Homo sapiens: one gene and its partners. The protein of the gene in region 5 purifies or fractionates together with the protein of the main gene of each other region. This does not show direct contact. Each region holds a gene or a part of one and is shown on either strand. Other genes may lie near its edges. The genes, in order: INF2, PCYOX1, PASK, IPO9, SPNS2, PRPF39 and NUP210.

Evidence for each region.
Region 1: the proteins of SPNS2 (region 5) and INF2 purify together in Homo sapiens (affinity purification with mass spectrometry; one large-scale study listed by BioGRID and IntAct). This does not show direct contact.
Region 2: the proteins of SPNS2 (region 5) and PCYOX1 purify together in Homo sapiens (affinity purification with mass spectrometry; one large-scale study listed by BioGRID and IntAct). This does not show direct contact.
Region 3: the proteins of SPNS2 (region 5) and PASK purify together in Homo sapiens (affinity purification with mass spectrometry; one large-scale study listed by BioGRID and IntAct). This does not show direct contact.
Region 4: the proteins of SPNS2 (region 5) and IPO9 purify together in Homo sapiens (affinity purification with mass spectrometry; one large-scale study listed by BioGRID and IntAct). This does not show direct contact.
Region 6: the proteins of SPNS2 (region 5) and PRPF39 purify together in Homo sapiens (affinity purification with mass spectrometry; one large-scale study listed by BioGRID and IntAct). This does not show direct contact.
Region 7: the proteins of SPNS2 (region 5) and NUP210 purify together in Homo sapiens (affinity purification with mass spectrometry; one large-scale study listed by BioGRID and IntAct). This does not show direct contact.

What each region holds. Positions count from the first base shown.
Region 1 is NC_000014.9:104,696,118-104,699,617, reverse strand, and holds part of INF2 (inverted formin-2), read right to left. Parts: intron 1-3,500.
Region 2 is NC_000002.12:70,261,137-70,264,636, reverse strand, and holds part of PCYOX1 (prenylcysteine oxidase 1 precursor), read right to left. Parts: intron 3,426-3,500; coding exon 3,251-3,425; intron 1-3,250. UniProt on the Homo sapiens protein: Prenylcysteine oxidase that cleaves the thioether bond of prenyl-L-cysteines, such as farnesylcysteine and geranylgeranylcysteine. Only active against free prenylcysteines and not prenylcysteine residues within prenylated proteins or peptides.
Region 3 is NC_000002.12:241,105,599-241,108,535, forward strand, and holds the end of PASK (PAS domain-containing serine/threonine-protein kinase), read right to left. Parts: exon of another isoform or gene 2,869-2,937; intron 2,703-2,868; coding exon 2,569-2,702; intron 1,902-2,568; coding exon 1,755-1,901; intron 1,126-1,754; coding exon 968-1,125; 3' UTR 501-967; downstream 1-500. UniProt on the Homo sapiens protein: Serine/threonine-protein kinase involved in energy homeostasis and protein translation. Phosphorylates EEF1A1, GYS1, PDX1 and RPS6.
Region 4 is NC_000001.11:201,867,157-201,870,656, reverse strand, and holds part of IPO9 (importin-9), read right to left. Parts: intron 2,010-3,500; coding exon 1,861-2,009; intron 1,068-1,860; coding exon 939-1,067; intron 75-938; coding exon 1-74. UniProt on the Homo sapiens protein: Nuclear transport receptor that mediates nuclear import of proteins, such as histones, proteasome and actin. Serves as receptor for nuclear localization signals (NLS) in cargo substrates.
Region 5 is NC_000017.11:4,501,881-4,505,380, reverse strand, and holds part of SPNS2 (sphingosine-1-phosphate transporter SPNS2), read right to left. Parts: intron 1-3,500.
Region 6 is NC_000014.9:45,111,616-45,115,115, reverse strand, and holds part of PRPF39 (pre-mRNA-processing factor 39), read right to left. Parts: intron 2,799-3,500; coding exon 2,614-2,798; intron 934-2,613; coding exon 859-933; intron 623-858; coding exon 502-622; intron 260-501; coding exon 203-259; 3' UTR 1-202. UniProt on the Homo sapiens protein: Involved in pre-mRNA splicing.
Region 7 is NC_000003.12:13,315,735-13,319,322, forward strand, and holds the end of NUP210 (nuclear pore membrane glycoprotein 210 precursor), read right to left. Parts: coding exon 3,496-3,588; intron 3,422-3,495; coding exon 3,338-3,421; intron 2,048-3,337; coding exon 1,947-2,047; 3' UTR 501-1,946; downstream 1-500. UniProt on the Homo sapiens protein: Nucleoporin essential for nuclear pore assembly and fusion, nuclear pore spacing, as well as structural integrity.

The DNA of each region.
Region 1 (3,500 bases), on a different chromosome or scaffold from region 5:
CCAGTGGCCGTCCACTCACCCAGATGCGCAAGACCTTCCGGCCACCTCTGCCCACCCACTCTGGGCCCTGTCCTGGGCTGCTCCTCACGCTCCCCTGGCTTCTCATCGCTGCTGACCGCTGAGCTGCCAGAGACAGCCGGGTCCCTCCCAGGCAGCCTCAGGTCCCCAACGCCCCTCCTGGTGGCAGTAGGGTTGCTCCCACCACCATGAAGAGCCAGGCAGCCGGGCCTCTGCATATATTCCCACCCGCCTTGGCTGTTGCTGCCTAAAGAGGCCCCAGAACTGACCCTCCTTTCCTCCCCCGCCTCCATTGGCCGGAGTCCCTGTCCCCTTGGCACAGGCTGAGTGGACGGAGTTATGAACTCTCCCAGGCCCGGCCCCTGGCATCCAGAGTGTCCTCTCCAGCCAAGAGCCCCGGGGGTCCCTCCATGCAAAAAATCCTGACCTTTTAGAGACAAGCAGTGCCGCCGAGAGCCACCGTGCCCCAGGCCCCAGGGTGTCCCTGGACACAGAAGATGCTCCCTGACCTGAGTACTGCCCCTCTTGGCACTGCCCAGCGCTCCTTGCCCTGTGCAAGCCCCTGAAAGACCCCAGTCAAGAGGATCCCCCTTGGTCAGTGGGGTGGAGCCACGGTGGGAGGAAACTGGCCCTCCTGCCCATCAGGTTCCTATACCCCCGTGCCTGGGTGCCTGGCTCTGTGTCTGAGCTGCCCCAGCTGGCCGTGTCCCACCGGGTGCTGTCTGGGGGCAGTGAGTGTAACAGGGTCTCGCTGGGCTGCGGCCCGGCATAGACAGGGCTCCGGCTGAGGCCCCGGAGGCTGAGGCCGGAGCTGCTCTCCTCCTTCTGTGGTGCTGCCAAGGCTGCCCGATCTCACCCAGGCCCCCCGTCAGGCTCTACACCGGAGAATGTTCCAACTGCTTTTCAGCATGAGGCTGAACCTGCAAACACACCACGGCCAGACCATATATGCAGCACTCTGACCCGCAATCTGGCCACTGGCCCCAAATGGCTGGGACCTGGGTAATAACTGACAGCTTCTGTGATTTTTGTCTCATCTCATAGGAGCCCAAATTCCAGCCAGCAGCCTCTCTCAGGGCATCCCCGAGCCTTCCCTGTGTCTATAAAAAGCTTTCTATGTATAGAGTGAATTATCCATATGAGAAAACCATGAGGCTTCCCACTCCCCCGCCCGCCTGTGAGTCTCTGCTAAACGCGGGTGGCGGTGGCCGACTCCCTGCTACAGCGAGCTCTGCAAAAACAGCCTTGCCTGTTCTCACTGGGGGGTGGTGTCCACTTCTGCAAGGATTCCAGAAGGAATCCACAGTTTACTGATCTCAGGGGCACGGGGCTATGGGGAACAATACGCTGGAAGGTGCCAGTGCCAACTGAGAAGGGAAGGGGGCGGGAGTCTCATTGCTGAGCTGTGTGCCCCTGGGCAGGCTACCCTTCCCCTCTGCTCTCCATCTGGAAAGTGGGTTGGCGGGGCCACCAGCGCAGGAATGTGTCCTCAGAGCTCCCCAGCCCCGGCTGTAGGGCGTGGCCACCTCCCCACAGGCACAGGAATTTGCGTTCTTCGCAATCTTTTCTACAGCCGGCACCAGCTCTGGCTGAGGCAGGGCAGGACCATCCAGGCTCTGCAGGGCCCAGTACCCATGGCTCAGGCCAGACCCCATGCCTTGGACAGCAAAAGGGTCAGGGCACCAAGAAGGGGCGTCCCATCCACCCCCCCCGGCAGTCCACCAGCACCAATGGAACTGCACAGGGCAGGGTCTTTTGCAGATGAAGACTCTGAGGTCTGAGGGGCTCACCCCACCCATGCTAGTGGGACATCACCATGGTTCTTCAGCACTTGCTTTTGTCAACCAATAGCCTGGGGCTTCCAGAGGACGGGGCCATGCCTCTCCCCTGACTCTAGCTCTGGCAGGCAGGGTCCCCCTCTGGGCCTGGGCCTGGCCAGCCTGGTGTGGTGATGCCAGCACCTCCATCCGAATGCCTACATGCTAGGGCAGCTGCACTGACTCTCGGGAAGCCACCGGGCCACCGCCCCGCCTAGCAGTCAACAGTCAAGCTGAGTGTGTGGTGTGGGTGGGGACAGGGCCATGCTGGCCTTCACTAGACCTGCAGCCATGTGCCTAGCCCCTGCGGTGCAGACAGAAAACCAGAGCCAGGGAGTGTGGGCTCCTGAGGCAGGCCCAGCACCGAGCTGTGGAGAGTAGCTGGGGGCTCCTGCATGGGCCCATGGTTCTGAGCGGCACACAGGCCAGGGTTAGGGTACCCAGACTTGAATCCCAGCACGCGAGGGACCTGAGCCAGCCACTGAAGCCCCCAGGCCTCGGCTCCCTCACTTGCCTCCCAGGAGCCAGGCGAGGAGGGCCTTCCACAGCACAGTGTGGGAGCTCCTATGCCCTCGGCCAGCACCAATGGGCCTGGAGGCCCCCGCTGTGACATGTTCTGAGTCTGCCTGGGACAGCCCCCTCCCCTGTGAAGTCCCCACTGGTAGGGAAGGGAGAGGTCTGCCTGGGTCCAGGCTCCCCACGAGGAACAGGCCAAGCCCTGAGCCTGGCAGCCCTGGGGTGGCAGGTACTGCCTACTGTGCCTGGGACCAAGGGGCTCTGGGGACCCTGAAGCAGTGGCGGGGGTAGGGCAGGCACTGGCTGGGCACATGAGCACCTGTGGGGGGCTGCTGCCTGGGAGTGGGCAGGCAGCTGTGGTGTCGCCCTTCTGGCACTGGCACAGGGCTGGGTGCTTCTGGGCCCTGAGCCAGCGTTGGTGGTGGGGGTGCAGGGAGGGAGCTTGTCTTCCACGGGGTGGGTGGGCAGAACGGCAGGAGAGGATTCCGGAACTAGGAGGCAGGGGCTGCCACACTGTATTTTTAGCTCCTCCGAGAGCCCCAATTTTTCCACTGCTTGGCAACCCATGGATCTCCAGGACTGCACGCGTTCCTGGCAGCACCCCGGGGTTCTGGGCAGCCCAGGCCCTGCAGGGCGGTGGAGGCACCTGGAGCTGAACCTGCCCTACCATGACCCCCATTCCCCTCCCTCACACTCAGACTCCCAGCTCCTTTGAGCCTCCAGCATGTGTCACCTTCCCCACCAGGCCAACAGCCCCTTGAGGGACCTCTACTGACCTGGTGGCTCACCAACTGCCGGCAAGGCCCAGGGAGGGTCTGTGCACAGGGGGCCTCAAGGCAGGTGAGGATGGGGGTCCACCCACTGCCACGTGTCCAGGGGCATGGGGCGCACTGGGCCTTGGTGAGGGCTGGCTGTGTCCTCACTGTCACCTGGCCCGTCTCACACCCAAGAAGCACTCCAGCCCTCATGCCACCTGCAGTCCCCAAGATCTGGATGGAGTGCAAGGCTCCTGCCTCCAAAGCCCTCCAAGATCTTGAACTCCGCTTGTTGTGCAAAGAGGGCCCCCGGGCCACTGTGAGGACCCACAGCAGGACAGAAGGGCCCCCTGGGAGCAGGTGGGCAGAAAGGCGCTCTCAGCAGCATCATGAT
Region 2 (3,500 bases), on a different chromosome or scaffold from region 5:
TGATTTCTTAGGCCAGGTGCGGTGGCTCATGCCTGTAATCGCAGCACTTTAGGAGGCCAAGGCGGGCAGATCAATTAAGGCCAGGAGTTTGAGACCAGCCTAGCCAACATGGTAAAACCCCATCTCTACTAAAAATAAAAAAATTATCTGGGTATGGTGGCACATGCCTGTAATCCCAGCTACTCAGGAGGCTGAGGCAGGAGAATCGCTTGGACTCAGGAGGCAGAGGTTGCAGTGAGCCGAGATTGCACCACTGCACTCCAGCCTGGGTGACAGAGTGAAACTCATCTCAAAAAAAAAAAAGTAATTTCTTAATTTCTCAAAGGGCAATTCTCTACATCTCAAGCAAGCCACAGATAAAAAAAAAAACAAGGCTGGGAACAGGAGCTCACAACCGTAATCCCAACACTTTGGGAGGCCCAGGTGAGTGGAACACTCGAGCCCAGGAATTCAAGACCAGCCTGGGCAACATGGCCAAACCTCATCTCTACAAAAAAAATACAAAAAATTAGCCAGATCTGATGGCACGTGCCTGTAGTCCCAGCTACACAGAGGCTAAGGTAGGCAGATCCCCTGAGCCCAGGAGGTCCAGGCTGCAGTGAGCCATGATCACACCACTGCACTCCAGCCTGGGTGACAGAGTGAGACCTGTATCAAAAAAAAAAAAAAAAAAAAGAGGGCCGGGCACAGTGGCTCACGCCTATAATCCCAACACTTTGGGAAGCCGAGACAGGCAGATCACAAGGTCAGGAGTTTGAGACCAGCCTGGCTAACACGGTGAAACCACATCTCTACTAAAAATACAAAAAATTAACCAGGCATGGTGGCATGTGCCTGTAGTCCCAGCTACTCAGGAGGCTGAGGCAGGAGAATCACTTGAACCTGGGAGGCAGATGTTGCAGTAAGCCGAGATCCCGCCACTGCACTCCAGCCTGGGCGACAAAACGAGACTCTATCTCAAAAAAAAAAAAGAAAAGAAAAGAAAAACAATACACACAAGCAGGGCTGATGCCATCAGAACTTGATCTGCCTGCTGAGTATGCAGCACCATGCCACCCACCTTCTATAAAGTGACTGGCCGTCTCTACGCAAATTCTATATATTTCCTTGGTTGTGTATTGCCTGTCTCTCCACTAGAATATATATTCTTTGAGGACAAGGACATGTTGTAGGTCCTATACTCTCAACATAGAACAATGCCTAGCACCTAACAGGTATTCAATATTGGGTGAATGAATGAATGGCTACTTAAAAACATTATGCACTGTAGATGGACTTAAGGTACCCACGGGAAAGGCATTTAAGGAACTGACCTAAGAATGATGTTGAGAAAGAAAGAAACCCCAAACTACCATGAGTTATAGAAACCAGAGCATATCCTGCTTAGCTTTCTTTTTTTTTTTTTTAGACAGTCTGGCTCTGTCCCCCAGGCTAGAGTGTAATGGCACGATCGTGGCTCACTGCAACCTCTGCCTCCCAGGTTCAAGTGATTCTCCTGCCTCAGGCTCACAAGTAGCTGGGATTACAGGCATGCACCACCACGCCGGCTAAATTTTTATATTTTTTGTAGAGACAGGGTTTTACCATGTTGGTCAGGCTGGTCTCAAACTCCTGACCTCAGGTGATCCACCAGCCTCAGCCTCCCAAAATTCTGGGATTAGAGGCATAAGCCACTGTGCCCAGCCCTGCTTAACTCATATTTGTCCTGTTCAATACCTGGTCATATGACATGTTTTGTTTTGTTTTGTTTTTCCCCTCAAGATGGAATCTTGTTCTGTCACCCAGGCTGGAGTGTAATGATGCGATCCTGGCCTCCAGTACCTAAAACTGTAAAGCAGCATAAAAATTAGCATGTGCTAGCCGGGCACAGTGGCTCATGCCTGCAATCCCAACACTTTGGGAGGCTGAGGCAGGCGGATCACGAGGTCAGGAGATCAAGACCATCCTGGCTAACACAGTGAAACCCCGTCTCTACTAAAAATACAAAAAATTAGCCAGGCACAGTGGCAGGCACCTGTAATCCCAGCTATTCGGGAGTCTGAGGCAGGAGAATCGCTTGAACCAGGGAGGCAGAGGTTGCAGTGAGCCGAGATGGTGCCACTGCACTCCAGCCCGGGCGACAGAGCAAAACTCCATCTCAAAAAAAAAAAAAAAAAAAATTAGCACATGCCGGCCAAGCTCGGTAGCTCACACCTGTAATCCCAGCACTTTGGGAGGCCGAGGCAGGTGGATCACCTGAGGTCAGGAGTTCGAGACCAGCCTGGCCAAGAGGGTGAAACCCCATCTCTACTAAAAATACAAAAATTAGCTGGGCGTGGTGGCAGGCATCTGTAATCCCAGCTACTCGGGAGCCTGAGGCAGGAGTATCGCTTGAACCCAAGAGGCAGAGGTTGCAGTGAGCCAATATCGAACCATTGCACTCCAGCCTAGGCAACAAGCGAAACTCCATCTCAAAAACAAAAAAACAAAAAAACTAAAAAACTAGAACATGCCAACAGCTTTAAAAATACAGATTGTACCTTTCAAAATTAGACTGGCTATTTTATGTTAGTCTTCCTGATTACCAAAGTGATACATATTCACACGCATTAAAAAAACTGTTTAAATATAGAAAAGCATAAGGACGAAAAAGAGGCACCTGAATTCTCACTACCCAAAACAGTGCTAGAATGTAAATTCTTGGAATATGGAACTTTTACTCTACTTCAGGCTGCTGGTTCACTGAAAACATGTCACTATTAAAGGCCATTTAAGTTTTCTGATCCTTTCTACAAGCTCTTGTACACATTATCTCAATTCATATACACAACACCAGCACAGCATAGAGATTAAGAGTGAAGACTCAAAGGCCAGACTGCCTGGGTGGCAACTCCAGCTATACCACTTACTATGTGGGTGAACTTGCCTTTTAAAACCTCTCTACACCGCCACCTTCTGCATCTGTTTAAAGAAGCTAAAAACAGTACCTACCAGAGTAAGTTGTCATAAGAATTCAAGGCATCTAACAGTATCTGGCAACACTAAAGAAGCATTTGCAAAATACACTTCAGAAGCAAAAATAAACCAACCTTTCAATATCCAAGCAAATAGTCTGCATAGTTTCTACAAAACATTTTGCCTAACAATGTTATAAACAGGCCTTGCTGTGAGGTAGAAAATGCTTACAAGAAATCATAATTCCTAAAGTTCATCAAGTTTAATTTAACCTAAATTAAAAGATCTTAGGTTAAATGGAAGGAAAAAAAATTACCTCATGAACTTGTCTAACACGTCCTCTACCCACATGTGCATACGGAGGGATTGAAATCCATAGCGCCAAACTAATTTAATCACGTTAATTATGAACCAGTTGCTCTCCTCAAATACCAGAGTCTCTCCATTATATATCCCCAGTAGGCCACCAGAGGCCTGAACAGCAGAGAGACCTGCAAAAACATAAAGCACAGCTAAGTCAGTGGTGTCTATGCTGATCAAATGAAAGAACGTAATCTGAGTGAATT
Region 3 (2,937 bases), on a different chromosome or scaffold from region 5:
ATCCTAAGTACTTGACCTAGCCAAGTCTGTCTGAGGGGGATGGACTGGAGTCTAAGGGAGGGAAGCAGCCAGTTGAGTATCTGACAAACACCCTGGAACCTGAGCAGCTCGGAGGAATACAGGGCTGGAGCCCCTCACACAGACCAGAGGTGGGGGCTGGGCCAGGAAGCCCCTCATGTGGACAGAGGTGGGAGCTGGCTGGCCATGGGATATTTGGGGACTGCTGGCAGTGAGCCAGCCACGTGTTTGACAGCAGAGTCTTGCTACAGACAGAAGGGAGGTCCCTGAGGAAGCCACCCTCCCCCGTCTTACCAGATGGAGCAAGCTTCAGAGCCCTAGGCCCACCCCTGGCAGGGCCTGCTTGTAAAAGGAACCCCAGAATGGCCAAGGCTAGACTTCTCTCCAACTGTGGCAAGTGGGGTGCACACATGGAAAAATGAGGAAACCAGGTATTTCTCACACTTAGCACACGGGAACAGTTCACAACATCCAAGTCAGGATAACTGTTTACTAACAAAGGTGCTTTAATTTGAAAAGCATTTGAGGAAATAAATTAATGAAATAGTCTGGCCATTTGACTAACCAGTTCTACAAATTTCACATATCCGTCACTCAGATGAGCATATACCAAGTCAGAGGAAACAAAACATGCACATATACAAAAGTAGAAAGAGAAAACACTCATGCCTTCAGAAGTTCACAAATTAAAAGCCCTTTAATAATATAAAACAGTTGAACACTGGAATGTTTTTTTCTAGGTCATGAAAAAAGTGAATTCCAAATCTATGTAATAAATCTAAAATAATACAGCATCACTGTCTTCTGTTCTGGTGTTTATCAAACCTGCACATGAGTTTTTAGAAGGTGAATTGGGGATGCTTCAGAATGTATTTTCTCCAAACAGATGGAGCCTGAAAACTGTGTGATTTTCCAAACCAAGTGGAGAAAAGCAGGAAGAAATTGGTGTTTAGCTGGTCAGCAGACGGGGATCCCCGGGATGCAAACAGCCTTGGCCATTAGGAGCCTCGCCTGGAACGGGGCCCCCACAAAGCTCCTGAGCCTGGGCCACATCACTCAGGCTCCTGTTCCCCATCTCCAGGCTCGCAGCGGACAGAACTCCACTTTCTGAAGAAACAAGAAGGTAACTGTATCACGTGCTAACAACTTAAGGTTCTAAAATACTTTGCTTCTCACTTGAAGAAGTCCTAGAACAAAAGCCTAAGGTGAGGCCCTCAGAAATCCAACTGGCAATGTCCCGGAAGTACAGATCCTGCCAAGGTGGGGATCTAAGCCCAGGGCCATCAACCGCAGCTTGGTCCAAATGCTCTGAGCAGTGGTTTTGGCTCTGTGGCCAGAGCCTTGTCTGAAGAGCCCTCGGCCCCGCCGGCTGCTAGAGAATCACTCTCAGCATCTGTGGCCTCATCCTCCCCTTCGGCCCAGTCAGACCATCACCAGCTGCATTCCTCAAACCATCTTTGAGGGTTCCGACCCCTTCTGCCAGGAGCTCCCATGACACCTGCCCACCCTCCAAGGTCCAAAGCCACACCCTGAACCCCAGTGGTGTCCAGAGGCCTCGGGACAGAATCAAACCCCCTCTCACAGGTGACAGGTCAGCTATAGGCCCTGACATTTGTGTCCAAGACAGCATGGGGGAGAGAGCCTCCTTTTCCTCCTTTTGACCTAGGAAGGCAGCCTGGGGACCTCGTTATTCCAAGTGAAGTCATGTGGGGTGGAGGGATGCTGAGAAGCCTCACCTGGCTTGTTTACTCGAAACACCTCTTCCCATGTATAGTCAGCAAGATTCACAGGCTGTGTTACCCACGGGTCTGTCACCAGCTTCTCCAAGGTGGTGCGTCTCTCAGGGACTGGCTGCAGCAGCCCAGACACAAGGCTCATGAGTTCTGGGGACACAAAGAACACAGATGGTAGGTCCAGATTGGGATGAAGTGGAGCACATCTCAGATTCCTGGGTGCTCACCACCCCCCCGCAGAGCCTCTGACTGGGCAGGTGGCGGCCCAGGAACCTCTAGTGCAGGGCCCAGCTGTGCTTGGACAGAAGCTGCAGGAAACATTCATTGCCTCTGAAATGAAAGCTTGGAGTTCAAGATGCCATCCCACTCAACCAAAATCCAGGTGGTGCAGAGGTTCCTAACTGCTCTATTCTCAGGGGCTCTGGCAATGCAGAGCTGTGAATAACGCAGGGTTAACATGACAGGTGAGGGGATGCCAGCACAAGCTGAGAGAAGCCCCCAGCCTTGCATCTGGATTCGGGCCCCAGTTCCTTTAACCATGTAGGCACCAAGTCAACAGGGCCACTTGGAGCCTCCCTGTCCTGACTGCAAGTGTGTTTCTCACAAGAGGGCCTCTAAGATCCAAAGAGGAACATTAACAAAAACTAAATTATCAAGATGTTTTAAAGTCATATGCAAATTATTTGATGAATAGAAAAGAAACAAATGAGACTGTTGATATGGACAGAGATACACTGAGGAATGAGGAAATGGGAAAAAAAAGTGGCTGGTCTCTAAGGACAGTGTCGACTGTCTACCACTTGCAGCTCACGCTCACCTTTGGACACCAGGTATGGCGGGTGTATGGCAGCCTCCACGGTCTCCTCCAGCTCACAGAAGGGGTTCTCCTCAAAGACCAGCGTGTACAGAGTGACTCCCAGAGACCACATCTCCAGCTCCGGCCCTCTGTAGCTGTGAGGAGGAGGAGGCATCAGGACGCCACGGCACTCAGCGCAGGCTTGCCAAGCCCGCCCATGGGAAGCACCATGGCCCTTCCCGACCAGCACACAGGCCAGGCAGTGGTTTCCCAAGAGGAGGGTCACTCCACCCCTCAAACACGCCCTCCATTTCCACGCACTTCTGCCCCAGGCCAGCCAGCAGGCCATGTGCCAGGAGTGGAGAGGCCATCGGGCAGCTCCGAGGCTAA
Region 4 (3,500 bases), on a different chromosome or scaffold from region 5:
CCCTGCTCATCATGCCACTGGGCTACTTGTTCCAGGGTCACTGACACATAGGCCCGCAAGCACTCTCCGCCATTCTGGGGAGACAGGGGTGGCAAGCAAGATTAGTAATCGAGGGACAGATGCCAGAAGGCCCTCAGTCTGTATAAACAAATGTTCCCAGAGGCCTATGCCTCATAAAAGCGGTGAGTCTATAATGTTTGTGGTGGGCTCATACCACTGGAGTTAAGACATTTACTGTTACAGACATAGACGTGCATTACATAATTCCCCCTTTACCTAATCAGCTATCTCACAAATGTGTATATATATTTTTTTAATCACAAGGGACAATGGCCAAGCAAAATGAATTTTAATCATAAAGGTCTACCTCTGGTACTAAAAAAATATGCTTACAATCTTGGAATAACTGGGGATACTGTAGGTCTTTATATAGGTCTTACACAAACCACTAGTTGCCTAGGGATTTCCAAGCTGATCAATATTCACTGGCAAGTTCCTATAACCTTTCTAATCAATCACAGTAGCAGACACCTGAAAAGGTAACCAATTCACCCAAGAAACAAAAAGAGAAAAAATATTCAGGCATGTCTCCCCTCTCTAGAGGCCCATCACTCTGCTGACTTTATTACTAGAAGAAATATGCAGAAAGACTTTCTTATGGCCCCAAGTCTAGATGTCTGTAACCTCTTTCACAGTAGCAATACCCAATACAGATGGGCAGGGTGCTTGGTATCCATATTTTTAAAAACTGTAACATGCTCCAAAGCACCAGAAATGCTTGGCTTTTGCAGACTGAACCCTTCCTGAATCTGCTAAGTAAATATGGAGTTGAGAATTCCGTATTTCAAAAGCATAAAACCATGTCAGATTTCTCAGCATAGTATAAGCCCATGGCTGGGGAGCTATCTTCCCTCTTCTACTCTCCATGTCTCAGATACCTGCATGGTGGCATTGTCATCTGTGTGAAGGGTACACTGTGCCACAGCAGGGAAAGCTTGGCAGATGAGAAGCTGGGAAAGGGGAGGCTTTGTATTTCGTACTACTGTTGTCAGGATATCAATGGCTGTCTGAAAGAGAGAAGAAAAAGAAAAGTCAGAATTGCCTCTGGGGTGGGGGTTGCCCAACAACCAAGATCCTTACTGGATGGGTATTACATAGCAACCCAGAGAAAGCTTATTAATGAAAGGCAAGTTTCCAAAATAAAAGGAATAATTAAATGGGTAGTACTCTCAGCCTTCTCATAATAGCTTACTAATTGATTAGCCATAGGGGTGGGCAGTAGTACATGGTAGTGGATTGGATAACCAGGTGACATACTTAGTGGCACTGTGTAAAGGTGGCACTCTGTTCAATTCACTGAGGGTACCTCTGGAACAAGAAGAGCCATTTTCTTTCTTTCTTTCTTTTTGAGGCAGTCTCGCTCTGTCACCCAGGCTGGAGTGCAGTGGCACGATCTCCACTCACTGCAACCTCTGCCTCCTGGGTTCAAGTGATTCTCCTGCCTCAGCCTCTTGAGTAGCTGGTACTGCAGATGCCTGCCACCATGCCCGGCTAATTTTTGTATTTTTAGTAGAGATAGGGTTTCACCACATTGGCCAGGCTGGTCTCGAACTCCTGACCTTGTGATCCACCCACCTCGGCCTCCCAAAGTGCTGCAATTATAGGCATGAGCCACCGCGCCAAGCCAAGCCATTTTCTTAAAGCTTCAGAGAATCACCCACTGTCCTTGCAGGCAAAAGAGCTCAGCAAAATCACCCCATGAATCTCTAACGCTATTAGGTTCTTGTCAGCTAGATGCATCTGTGGGTGGCACTTGTAGATCTCTCTCACACACACACACACACACACACGGCCACTTACCGCACAAAGCCCTGCAGGAATCTTGTCTGCTGGGGCCTGCATTATGCTGACCAGAGTGGGAATCAGCCTCATTTGCATTGGGCCCTGACAGGCTTCAATCTGGGACAGCTCCTTGAAGATGTCCTGAGCCAGTGAGGCGACGACGGGATCTGAAGTGGATAAGGCAACACGGAATCCCCCTGCCTGATGGTCTGCATCTGCTTCTCGCTTAATGATGCCTGTTGTTTGGCCCTAACCTAAGTTAACAACTTCTGCATTGATTACTTATCACATACCCGGGACCTAGTGGGGCCACATGAATAACCTGAAAGAACAGGAGAGATCCTAAATCTGCAAGAGGTACACTTTGTATGGCTTCATTAAAGTAGGGACTAGTCATTAACAGCTACTCATAAAACAAAATGTGGCTTTTTCTAGAGAAAAATCTTTAAAGTCTTTATTCTTGTGAAACCTACGTTATAAAACCAAATGCTTAAAAAAAAAAAAAAAGCCCAACTGATACTTTAAGAAGACATGAAAGCTGCAAAAATTGCCAAAACACTGGCTTTGATGCATGAGAGAAATCATACATATCTCCTATGGGGTAGCCACGGTAGACATGAAGAACTCTCAAAGCTACTTCTGGGGCAAAAGGCAAAACTCCTAAAAAGCAGAGCCTTATGAAGAAAGGGAACTTTAGCTCAATCTTCTTTATCTATAGAACAAAACATCCTCCTCTATTTAGTATGGAAAAATATAGGCAATGTGCATTAAAGTATACCTTAAAAGATCACTGCAGCATTGTTTGTAATAGAAAAAAATTGGGAATACCCTAGATGTCCATTAACAGAATGGGTAAATTATGATATACCCATTTTATGGAACATTAGTAATGGCTGAAAAGAATGAGATATATCCAAGAACACAATGTGGAAAGCTCCTCAGTACACATTTTTCAGTGAAAAAGCTATCAAATAACATGTTCAGTATATCACATTATATAAATAATCCTTATCCTGTACATCTTTCTGAGCTTCAATATTGGAGCTCTCTCTTTAAAAAAAGAATCCTTAATATTTTACTAGTAATAAGGTATTAATAAATACATTCACTACAGGAAAAAAAAAACTTAAAATGCAGAAAAGTAATAATGAAAACACCTGTAATTCCACTACCTAAACACTCAACATTTTGATGTATTTTTTTTTAAAACATACCTATCTATACATACATGCTTTTCTAAAAGAAAAATCAAAACTTGGGATCATATTCTATGGATTTTTTGGGAAAAGTATCTTTTCATTTATTATAATGTAAGCTCTTTCCCATGGTTTCAGATATTCCTTTTAAGCTTGATTTTTAATGGCTGCACAGTATTTCATTTTATGGATATAATTAACTAATGTCTTTTTATAATTTCCAAATTTTTACTACTGTAAAAAATATCTAGTGAATACCTTTGTTTATAAACTTTTCCATATATCTTTCTTTAGTATCTCCTTTTCTAAATTATAGTCCTAGCCCTTTTCTTTTAGGAGGCTTTTCATTTGCCCAATTTCCTATTCTATCATCAAAGTTCTGAATTATGTCTCTTGCTTATTAGCCCTTTATTTATTATCTTTATCCCTAAGTCCTTACTAGAGAGTAAGTGTTACAGAAAT
Region 5 (3,500 bases):
CCCTGATGTCAGCACAGGGGCCTGGCCCTTCACCTGAGCTGTCCAAACCTACCAGTGCCCTTTCAGCCCAGAAGGATGTGCTTTGGGTCAGGCAGGTATGAGTCAACCCAAGTCTCAGTCAACTGAGTCTGTGACTCAGTCAACAGAGCTCAAGCCTGGGGCAGTCTCCTATGCATGCGGGGGTCCCAGGTGTGACCATGGCTAGAGGGGGATGGTGACTCTCCATGGGGATAGGTGCTGTGATGGAGGCGGAGCAGAGCACAGTTCAAAACCGGGAGTTAGGCACTTGGTTCAACCCAGAGCACTGGAGACGGCATCCTGGAAAGAGGACACCGCTGAGACCCACCAGGGACAAGCGCAGTTGGCTACTGTAGCTCCCGGGAAGCAGATCTGGTTGTCCTGGGGAAAGGAGGTGCAGGCAGAGCCAGGGACCAGCAGACTGGAGTTCCTGAGACCAAGTGCACCACACTATCCTTGGGACCAAGACACTGACAACAGCAAGAGAGGGACAAAAATCATCTGTCATGGATTCAGGGATCAGAGAGAGTCAGAATTTGCCTCCAGTCACACAGTAAAGCTGGCGAAGGCTGGCAGAGCCAGGAACAGGAAGCTCAGCCCAGAAGACATTTGGAGCTTAAGAGGGAGCCCAGCCCCAGAAGCCTAGGGATCGGGCCAGTGTTCTCCTGGACTCCCTCACTCTCATCCCCCTTCTACCTTCAAGATTTCAGGCCCCCACAGGCAGAAACAAAAGCCACTTCCTATTGCAGAAGGTTCTGGGGAAGGGACAAGGAGCTCCTCCTCTGAGCAGCTCTGAACAGGGCAGCCTCCCTCTCAGAACAGGCTATCACCTGCAGACCTGCAGCCTTCCTGCCTCATCCACAAAATGAGAAACAGAGGCACAGGCCAGGCCCATCACCGGTCCAGGGCCCCAGACCAAGGTACTATGTTTCAAAGCACTTCCTCTGATGGATGACAGCACAGCGGAGGGGCTGGCAGAGCCTGCTGGAAGGTGCCTTGAAAAGGAAGCAGGAGCAAGGAAGTGGGCAGCAGGCAGTTAGTCACAAGGGCGCTGACATTCTAGACCACCTGGCGCTTCACCTGGGTGCTGAGCCTGCCAGTCAGACACTCTGGATGCCCTGCCCCTCACACCTCAGCTGGGGTTTCTCCACGGTGCAGATGTGGCAGTGGCCAGGACAAGGCCACCTAAGAGGGCAAGGCAGGGGCACTGTTTATCCTTAAGGTGGCCATCCTTATCTAAAGAGAGAGCCACAGAGCCACAAGACAGGGCCTGGCTTAGCCCCTACCCACCAGGTGACCCTGTAAAAGACCCTGGGCCTCAGTTTCCCCATCTTTCAATTCTGGATAGACTTAACAGGACAGACCAAAAAAAAAAAAAAAGCCAATAGGAGAGTGAGCCCCAGCCTGGCACCCCCTCCTCCTGCACCCAGCTCAGCTGCTCTGGGGAAGCCCCCAAGTCCCTCTCGGCTTGTGTTCCCAGCTGGGTCCCTATGCTCATCGCTCCTTCTGGGTTTGTGTTAGTGAGCAGTTGCCATGGATACCAGTCTCAGCTTCTTTGGCAGAAAAGGACTCCCCCAGGGCAAGGCTCTGCCTTTCCTCAACAGCCCCCACTCCACCCAACTCCAAGTGCCCAGGCTGCCCCAGGCTGGATCAAAGGGAAAGAAAATAGGTCTTGAGAAGAGAACAGGTACCCCACAGAAGTTGGGGAAGGATCTCAGTTCCCAAATAGTCATTCACCACCCATAAACAAGGCCAGGGCCACCTCCCTCTTGTGGGGCCTGGTTCCAGGAGCAAAATGCTGCCACCTACACCCTCAGCTCTGCTTCCATTTCACAGAGGTAAGAATGGCAGCCTGGGTGGCAGAGGTGGCTCTGGCACCAGGAAGCAGAGCTAGTTAGAGGGGGCGTGAGACCCCCGTCTGAGGGACTCCCTCCTTCTCCTGACCTTGCAGCTAGGAGTGGGCTCAGAATGCAGAGTGGGTGGCTGCTAGGGACCATAGGAGCAGGAGCCATGTGCCCTAGGGGAGCTCAAACTGCCTTGGCTCAATTAAACTGAAATTCATCTACCCAAAGGGCTCTTGCCTAAGCCAGCAGAGCCTCTGCGTTCCCAGGCCAGAAGCAAGGGTCATGCCCCTACCTCCACCTGGGGCTCCTGGGACTGGAGAGGATGCCGCTCTGGCTGGTGTGGCCCTGCTCCGCCCCCCGTGTGACCTTGGGTAAGTGTCTTTGTTCTCTGGATGGCTGTGTTCCCATCTGCGCAAGGAGGTGCAAGGAAGGATTTAGAAGAGGTTTCTGGGCTACCTCAATTTCATCCAATTGAAGCAACGCTCGGTAAGAAGAGCAAGCACAGGAGCCTGGCCCTCCTCACCCGCTCTGAGGCCTGCTGCCCTCAGGGGGTTCTCATGGGGCGGAGGAGAGGCCGTAATTAGCAGGTTCACCGGGTGGCGCTGGGGCAGAAGCTACTAGAGTTCCCAGGATGGAGACCAGCCCTGTGGAGAAGGGAGGGGCTTGCAAAGGTGTCCTGAAAGGACTGTCATAAACAGAACAAAAAACAGAACAACAACAACAAAAATCCCAGGAAAGGCATCGTGGCCAGCTTGAGCAGAGGCATGAAGGAGAAGGCAGCTGGCACTCGTGAAGCCCTCCTAGGAATCTGGCCCCGTCCCAGGTGCTCGAGATACAGTCTCATTTATCCCACGCAACCCGGGAGGCAGGCGGGAGGGGAATGATCACACAGAAGGCTCAGGTGATGTCTTCAAGGTCACACGGCTGGGAAGCTGAAGAGCCTTGGCTCGAACTCTGGCAACAAAGACTCTAGACCTGCACTGTCCACTCTAGTGGCCCCTGGCCACCGTGATATTGACATGTGCTGTGAATGGAAAATACACATACTGGGTTTCAAAGACTTAGTATGAAAAGGGAGGCAAAATATCCCATTAACAACATACATATGTGTGTGTGTGTATAATTTTTTTTTTTTTTTTGAGACAGAGCCTCACTCTGTCACCCAGGCTGGAGTACAGTGGCGCGATCTTGGCTCAATGCAACCTCCACCTCCTGGGTTCAAGCGATTATCCTGCCTCAGCCTCCCGAGTAGCTGGGACTACAGGTGTGCACCACCATGCTAGCTAATTTTTGTATTTACTTTAGTAGAGATGGGGGGTTTCACCATGTTGACCAGGCTGGTCTCGAACTTCCGACCTCAGGTGATCCACCCGCCTCGACCTCCCAAAGTGCTGGGTTTACAGGCGTGAGCCACCGCGCCCAGCCCTAACAACTTTTATATTGATTACATGTTGAAATATGTTGGATATATTGAGTTAAATAAAATATATTATGAATTAATCACACCTATTTCTTGTACTATTTTAGTCCGGCTACCAGAAAATTTGACAGGAATATGTGGCTTACATTATATTTCTTTTGGACAAAGCTGGTCTACACTATGAAAAAACAGATTTAAAGGACAGAGTTAAAGAAGGA
Region 6 (3,500 bases), on a different chromosome or scaffold from region 5:
AATTTTATAAATGGTAGGAAACAGTATCTGTGGTAAGCTACTAATTGACATTTTCCCCCTATTACTAAACAAATCATGTTACACAGAAACAAGGAAGACAGGTTATCAAATACAACAAGCTTATACTGTTTACATCCCTCATTAAAAAAAATAATAATTTCATACTTTTCACACACTGCATTTGAAATTTACATTTTTCCCATCAGGTTGGAGGGGGAGGATAATATTGTCCATAATTCCAAGGATTCTGATAATTGTACTGAAAGGAAAAAGTAAGTATGTTAGCATATTAGAACTGTGGCAGAGTTCCATATGTAAAAGTATAATTAAAGCAGCTATGTTTAAGAAAACAAGCAAGTGTTCACTGCTAAAATTCTAGTACTTAACCACCAAAGAATGTATTACACAATTGGAACAAAAACTTTTTTTAAAAAAAAAGAAACTATCCTAATTTATGCTAATAACATCTATGAACAAAGAATTATAATTATGCAGACTCACTTGATACCACGCACTATAATTATATACAGCTTGGTTTGCCTGTAAATCACCATCAATCATCTGTGTAGATGATGAAGTTGTATCTTCTGTATGTGCTTTCTTTTCCTCTGGTTCTTCTGATCTATATAAAACGTCAGAATGGAAACTTTCAAAACTCCCACAGGTAAGAACTTTAACGAATAGATGAATGTTATCTGTATATTTGTTTTACTGAAGTTCTGAATCACTCAAGACTTTTTCAAATCATGAAAATAAAGTATGTAAATTACAACATAAAAGTAACACTTAAAAACATTTGTCTTTGAAGGCATTTCCATAATGAAGCACGCCTTCTTGACTTAGCAAAAAGTGACATACCCATTTTCTGCTTTCCTTTTTAAAGAATCCTGTTCTTTCAGGAGTGTTTGATGTTCATCATAAGCATTCAGAAGCCTGAAAGGAAAGAAAAAAATATCCTCTGGAATATACAAAAAACAAACTTTATTAAATATTTAAAGTTGTTTTTACTTAGGAAACTGCCTAAGAAAATTTCTAAGCGGCTCCTTTATTTTTAAAATTTCTACTACTAAAATCATAGTCCTGATACTCAGACACTCCATTCCCTATACTTATAATGGACTAAATGACACTTGTGTTGAATCTCCGATTTGTCTGCCTGTTTTTACCAAATTAAAATAATGTCATTTAACATCACTGGTCAAAATTCCAATAGCTTACTACTGTCAGCTACCTACTGCATGTGCTATCAATTCAGTCTAGCTTTCAATGCACAACACAGTCAAGATCACGCTTCCACTACTTCACAAAAACCTCCAATCAAGCAGATGTTACTTTTAGATGAGATTCAACTTGCTTCCGCCACTGTGTCCTCTGCTCAGTTTATCAGAATCCAGTAATAACTAAATGAAGCCCAACCTCCTCTATGAAGCATGACAAATCCATTCTGATCGAGAGACATCACAGCCCTCCTAGCAGTTATTTGCTACCTCATACACTTACTTCCTGTTAATCATATCATTCAACCAGACTAGAAGCTAGAATTACATATCTCATCTTTTGTGTACCTTCTTCAGTGTAAACATAAGACACTAAATACACAGCACACAAGCAGTTAAGAGCAGAAACTCTGAAGTAGGTTCAGTCCTCGCTCCACAATGTGATAATAGCTACATGACCTCAGAAAAAATGCCTAATCTCTGTTTAATCCTCTCATCTATTAAGAGAACAGAACCCTACACCCTCATTCTACTGCTATGAATTTTCTGCAAGATAGCTAATATAAAACATTTGGCATCATGCCAAGCACGCAAATATATACATTAATACATTAAAATACACTAATATAAACATTAGCTGTTATATTAGTTGCACTGAAATTTTACACAGCCATCAAAAATATATACACACATATACAAACACCCAGACACAACTAATTCTCAGTTTATCTACAGTGGTTTCAACAGAAATCTAAATGCGAATAATCATAAAAGGCACATGCCTAACAGGAACTGGTGTATTTGCTTACTACAATCAGATAAGACTGGAACTTCAGCAATGCTCTAGCCAATATTTGTACTCTTAGTAAATTTAATCTTAAACTTGTCCTTTTCCCAAATCCACTGGAGCATTCTCTTCAACCATCCTCAACTTTCGGCTTTTACAATGAAGGAAGATGAGGCCACTAGGCATGTTCTGTGGGACCATATCCATCCTCTTCTCCAATCTCAGAAAATAGCACTCCTACTGGAGATTAATCCCATCCATCTTTATTGACCTATATATTAAATATTTGGGTTTCAGGGTTCAATCCTTATCCCATTTCCCTTTTCACAGGATTGCTCCTTCCTGCCTTCTCTCATTCAGTCATGGTTTAAATTGTCATTCTAAAATTGGGAAAACAGTTTTGAAGGAAAGACAAACCTTATGCCTTCCTGTTAAGTACATATACATTTACAAAATTGAATTTACCCCCATATATATCTGAGGAAAAAGTAAACTAAGCGAACATTTTAAAATTTAACAATGTATTAATCTATACTAATCATCAAATCCCCATACAAAAATATCAATGCTCATTTATCATTCAAATAGGTAATATAACTAATATCTTACTTATTAACATCGGAACCAAAATCTTCAAGAAATTCCACTTTTCTCTGAGAAAATGTAATTCTCATTTTAATAGGTAATGAACCATGTACAGCTTTGTCAAAACAATTTAGGATATTTTCTTCATTTTGTTTGAGGTCACCACTATATTCCATTTCAAGTAAATTGAGGTATAACTTTGTGTTCTCCTGTGTAAAAAGCAGCATCAATGAATATTTCTAAAATATTTTTATTAGAGCACAGATATTTAAAATGCCTTAGTTTTTATGTCTCAATTTGAAAAAATATTGAAAATTGTATTAAAATACAACTCATGCTAAATGTTTTCAGCATATATCTAAAGGGGTGAAAAAATTCATTAACACACTGATGAATTTTTCAATCAGTTGATCATCCTAGTACCTCCTAAACAATGCAAATTGTTCAATGACAGTAAATTAAAACTCTATAGCCTATCTTGTATTTAGTATGACATGACCTACCATGACAATTAGAAAACAAAACATAAAAAAAAATCTCTATGCTTCAAATAATTTAAATCTTTACTACAACTATAGATAAACATCTTAACCGGGCGTGGTGGCTCATGCCTATAATCCCACCACTTTGGGAGGCCAAGGCAGGAGGATCACTTGAGGTCTGGAGTTTGAGACCAGCCTGGCCAACATGGTAAAACCCCATCTCTACTAAAAATACAAAAATTAACTGGCGTGGTGGTGCACACCTTTAATCCCAGCTACTTGGGAGCCTGAGGCAAGAGAATGGCTTGAACCCAGGAGGTGGAAGCTGCAGTGAGCTGAGATCACGCTACTGCACTCCAGCCTCAATGACAATGAAACTCTGTCTCAAAAAAAAAAAAAAAAAAAAAAAAAAAGCCCAGGTGCAGTGGC
Region 7 (3,588 bases), on a different chromosome or scaffold from region 5:
AAAACAAACGAAAAACAAAAACAAAACAAAACAAAACAAAAAAACATTTCCAGGATGCAGGAATGCACATGTAAGCATGCACAAAGACACACAGAGAAACAGAGAACGAGAGTTCACTTTTGGCCAGACTTAAGAATTCTAGAGAAAAAACAATCTATATGATGTACTATATTTTTAGTGCTAAATGGTGCTAAAAGCCTTTTCTGGCAACCATTAGAGACAGAGAGTTGCTTGGTTAGCTTGGGAGCAGAAAGCTGAACTGTGTGGCATCACCTGGTTTTGTCAATGTGCCTTCTTGGGCACACTCACTTGCTGGCAAGATCTGGCTGCGTCCAGATGCACTTGCATTTGCCAACCTGAATGTGCTTGAAAATGATGCTCACCCTTTGGGGAGAATAAAGCTCAGACCTCCAGCTCTGCCAGGCCCCAGAGTATCATAGATGGGTAAAGGGAAGAAATCATCACCATCAGACAGAAATCTCAGCAACGATCACACCCTCTTAAAAAATCACATAGAACTTTATTAAATAAACCAGTAGAAAGGCTCCTATTTACATCCAGGTTGTCAGTTTAAGCTCAAGTAATATGCAAGGCACAATTCTTCCTTTCTCCAGCTTTAGAAAAATCAACCACATGGCCCAGCCCTGAAGGACTGAAGGGAGCTTGTGCGGGATCCCGTCATCCTGGACTCTCCACACAGCGTCCACGCATGGATGGCCATGGGCATGAGTCTCTGGATCTCCCTGAGGGTAGCCCAGCCTCGGCCTGGAGCACAGGGGCCTGTGATCTGAGAATCTCAGATCCAGAATCAGGAGCTGGGAAGAGAGGACTTTTCCAAGGGTCTCCTCCCCCAGGCCCTGGGGAGTCCCTTCTGGATGGGCAGGCCCTGGGCTGGCGGCCGCCCTCCATCATTGGCCCAGGCCGGGCTCTAGGGCCTGCTGGGAAGCTGTCTGGGGCCCTGCGCCTGATGAGCTGCCATGAAAGTGGCCGCCTCTCACACTGGCAGGCGGTGGCTCAGATCTGCTGAGGTTCTGGAGTGGCACAGGAACAGGAGGAGCAAATGACACTGGGTCTTTGTGCTGAGGCAGGACACAGCGGCTTTCCGAAACACACACACAGAAAATATGACTCCTGCTGCCATCTCAAGGACATTTTCCTAAGGACAGTCCTGGTGTCCTGATGGAGTGAAAGGGATCACACGTGGGATGTCCCAGCAGGGCCTAAGCCAAGTCCATCAGATGTCTCAACGGCTTATGAAACAAAAACAGAGGACTGAAGTCTGTTCACAGTGGCCCATGGTTGGGCAGCAGCCCTGGGTGAGCTCCTGTGTTCTCCAGCCTCTCGCTCACCCAGGGCTTGGCTATCCTGGCCTCCAGGTGCTGGTTCCTGAGGCTTCCCTTGCGGCAGTGGCGCAGATACAGGGACACTCATGTCCCATTGCTCCTCAGAAGTCCTAGCAGCAGCCAGACTAGGGGCAAAGTAAGTTTTCACAGGGGGAAAAACCCCACCAAAAACCCCCTAAAGTAACTGGACAATCCTTTCCCTGAGACCACTACAGTAACATCACCCACAGACAACTTCTAAAGAGCACTTCTAACTGCTCAAAGTCTTGAGAAGGGAAAGATTTTAGCAAGGCTAGGAAAATAAAAATGCAACAGCACATTGTCCAGAAACCCTAGACAACCATGCAAAAAGGAATGAGCCAAAAAGTCTTAGCTTTGTAAGACTTGAAAGGAAAAAAACACACATTTAAAACTCCTACATAAAATGAGCTAATGGGCAGAGCCGAAACTACAGCTCTGTGTGAAGAGACGGCAGTGAAGCTGGCCTGGGGCCGGGGCACTCATCTGGAGGGGCTTGTTCCAGTGTGAATGCAGCAGGGATGTTCCATCTTGGGGGTGCACGAGGCTCGGCTGAGACCCATCCTCCGGGAACCTTCACGCGGCCTAGTGGGAGGCATAGGCTGGGCTCCACAGCCCTGAGGGAGGGCTGGCTTTGCGAGCAGGAGGCAATGCATTGGGAGATGTGGGTGATGAGGCAGCGAAATCTAGGGTGGGAAGAGAGACGATGTTAGCAGCAGAGCCAGGGAAAGCGGCGCACTCTTCAGTTACAGCCAGCATTCAGCAGGCGCCTGCCTCACCCAGGACACTCTCACAGTGATGCCCCGAGGCCTCCCCGGCCAGCAGAGGGAAGTCCACGGGCACCTGCTGAGCTGGCCTCATTCACACAGAGAGGCCTGGGATGCCACCCTAACACCCAGGAGCGCAGAGCCTTCCGGGGAGAACGTGTCTCAAGTTTCAGGACCACAGCAGCATCTGTCCAGGGGGCATGAGGCAGGGAGGCCCCGTGCATCTGAATGCAATGCAGCCTCGGGCAAGAGCGCCACAGGAACAAAGACCCCGAGGGGAGCAGCGATTCTGCAGTGCTCCGGAGACCTTGCAGAGATCCAGGTGTGGCTCCCAAAACCCAGGGAGGAGCACGCTGAGAGAGGCAGCTAGAAAGGGCAGGCACCTGCTGCCAGAGCAGCTGCAGAAGGCAGCAGAGCCGCGAGGAGGCCGAGCACCCGTGGCCTCCCCTGGGTGCCGCTTTGCAGGTAGAGAAGTCGTCAGGCAGAAGACAAGGGCGTGTGGGCTCTCCTTACCCAGGAAAGTGCTTCTACCCACACAACTGGGTCTTCTTTCAAAAAAATTCAGGGACCCCCCTGAAGCCGGTCCATGGGCCCCCATGTCAGCAGACACGAGCTCGAGGACTCTTTGTGTAGGGGAGAGAACCCTCAAATGGGAATCAGGAGACATTAAAGGGCCTTCACGTACAGCAGTACAGGCTGGGCACTGCATTGTTTGAGAGAGAAACTACATTCACACAGTGAGGTGCTCCCTGGAGCTGTGCAGGGTCACCAGGGCTTCGGGGTCACCAGAGAGACAGTTAGACCATTGAAATAAATGACTTTGCCCATTCTTCTGGGAAATTTCTCATCAGAACTACCCAGAATCCCCATCTGTGAGTCAGCTCGTCCAACCCCAGCTTAGAGCCTTCTGAGGCAGCCTCAGCAATTGGGCATCCAGTCCTAGCATGCACTCCTGCCTAGACAGAGCTCCTTGCTGCCCATACCTCCACCCAGCATGGCTCTACCTGGGGAAAGCTCTTGCTGAACCAGGACTGGCAGCCCCTCTGCCCCGACCCTCCTGGCTCCCACATCTGTCCTCTGGGCCTCAGGCTCCTTTGGCCCAGGCAAGGGCCTGTTGAGACTTAGGGTTCAGGAGCCTCGACCCCTCCCCCAGGGCTCTTCTCTTTCTCAGCAGCTCTGCCTGGTTGTGCCTGCAGGGGGGCTACTCACAGTGGGGGCTGTGTCCAGGGCTGGCTCGAGGCGTGAGGGCTGCAGGCACAGCAAGATCCCGGGGCGTGCAGACAGTGTGGTAGGCTGCAAGAGCACAGGGTTGGTTAGAGCAGGTCGGGGCAGGGGAACAGACCCAGAGATACAGGCAGCCTCCTCACCTATGATCATGACCGCTGTCCCAGCCAACAGGGCGAAGAGCGTGAAGAACATGACCTGGTAGGAATCCAGGAAGTGCTGGAAGAGGCTGGCTC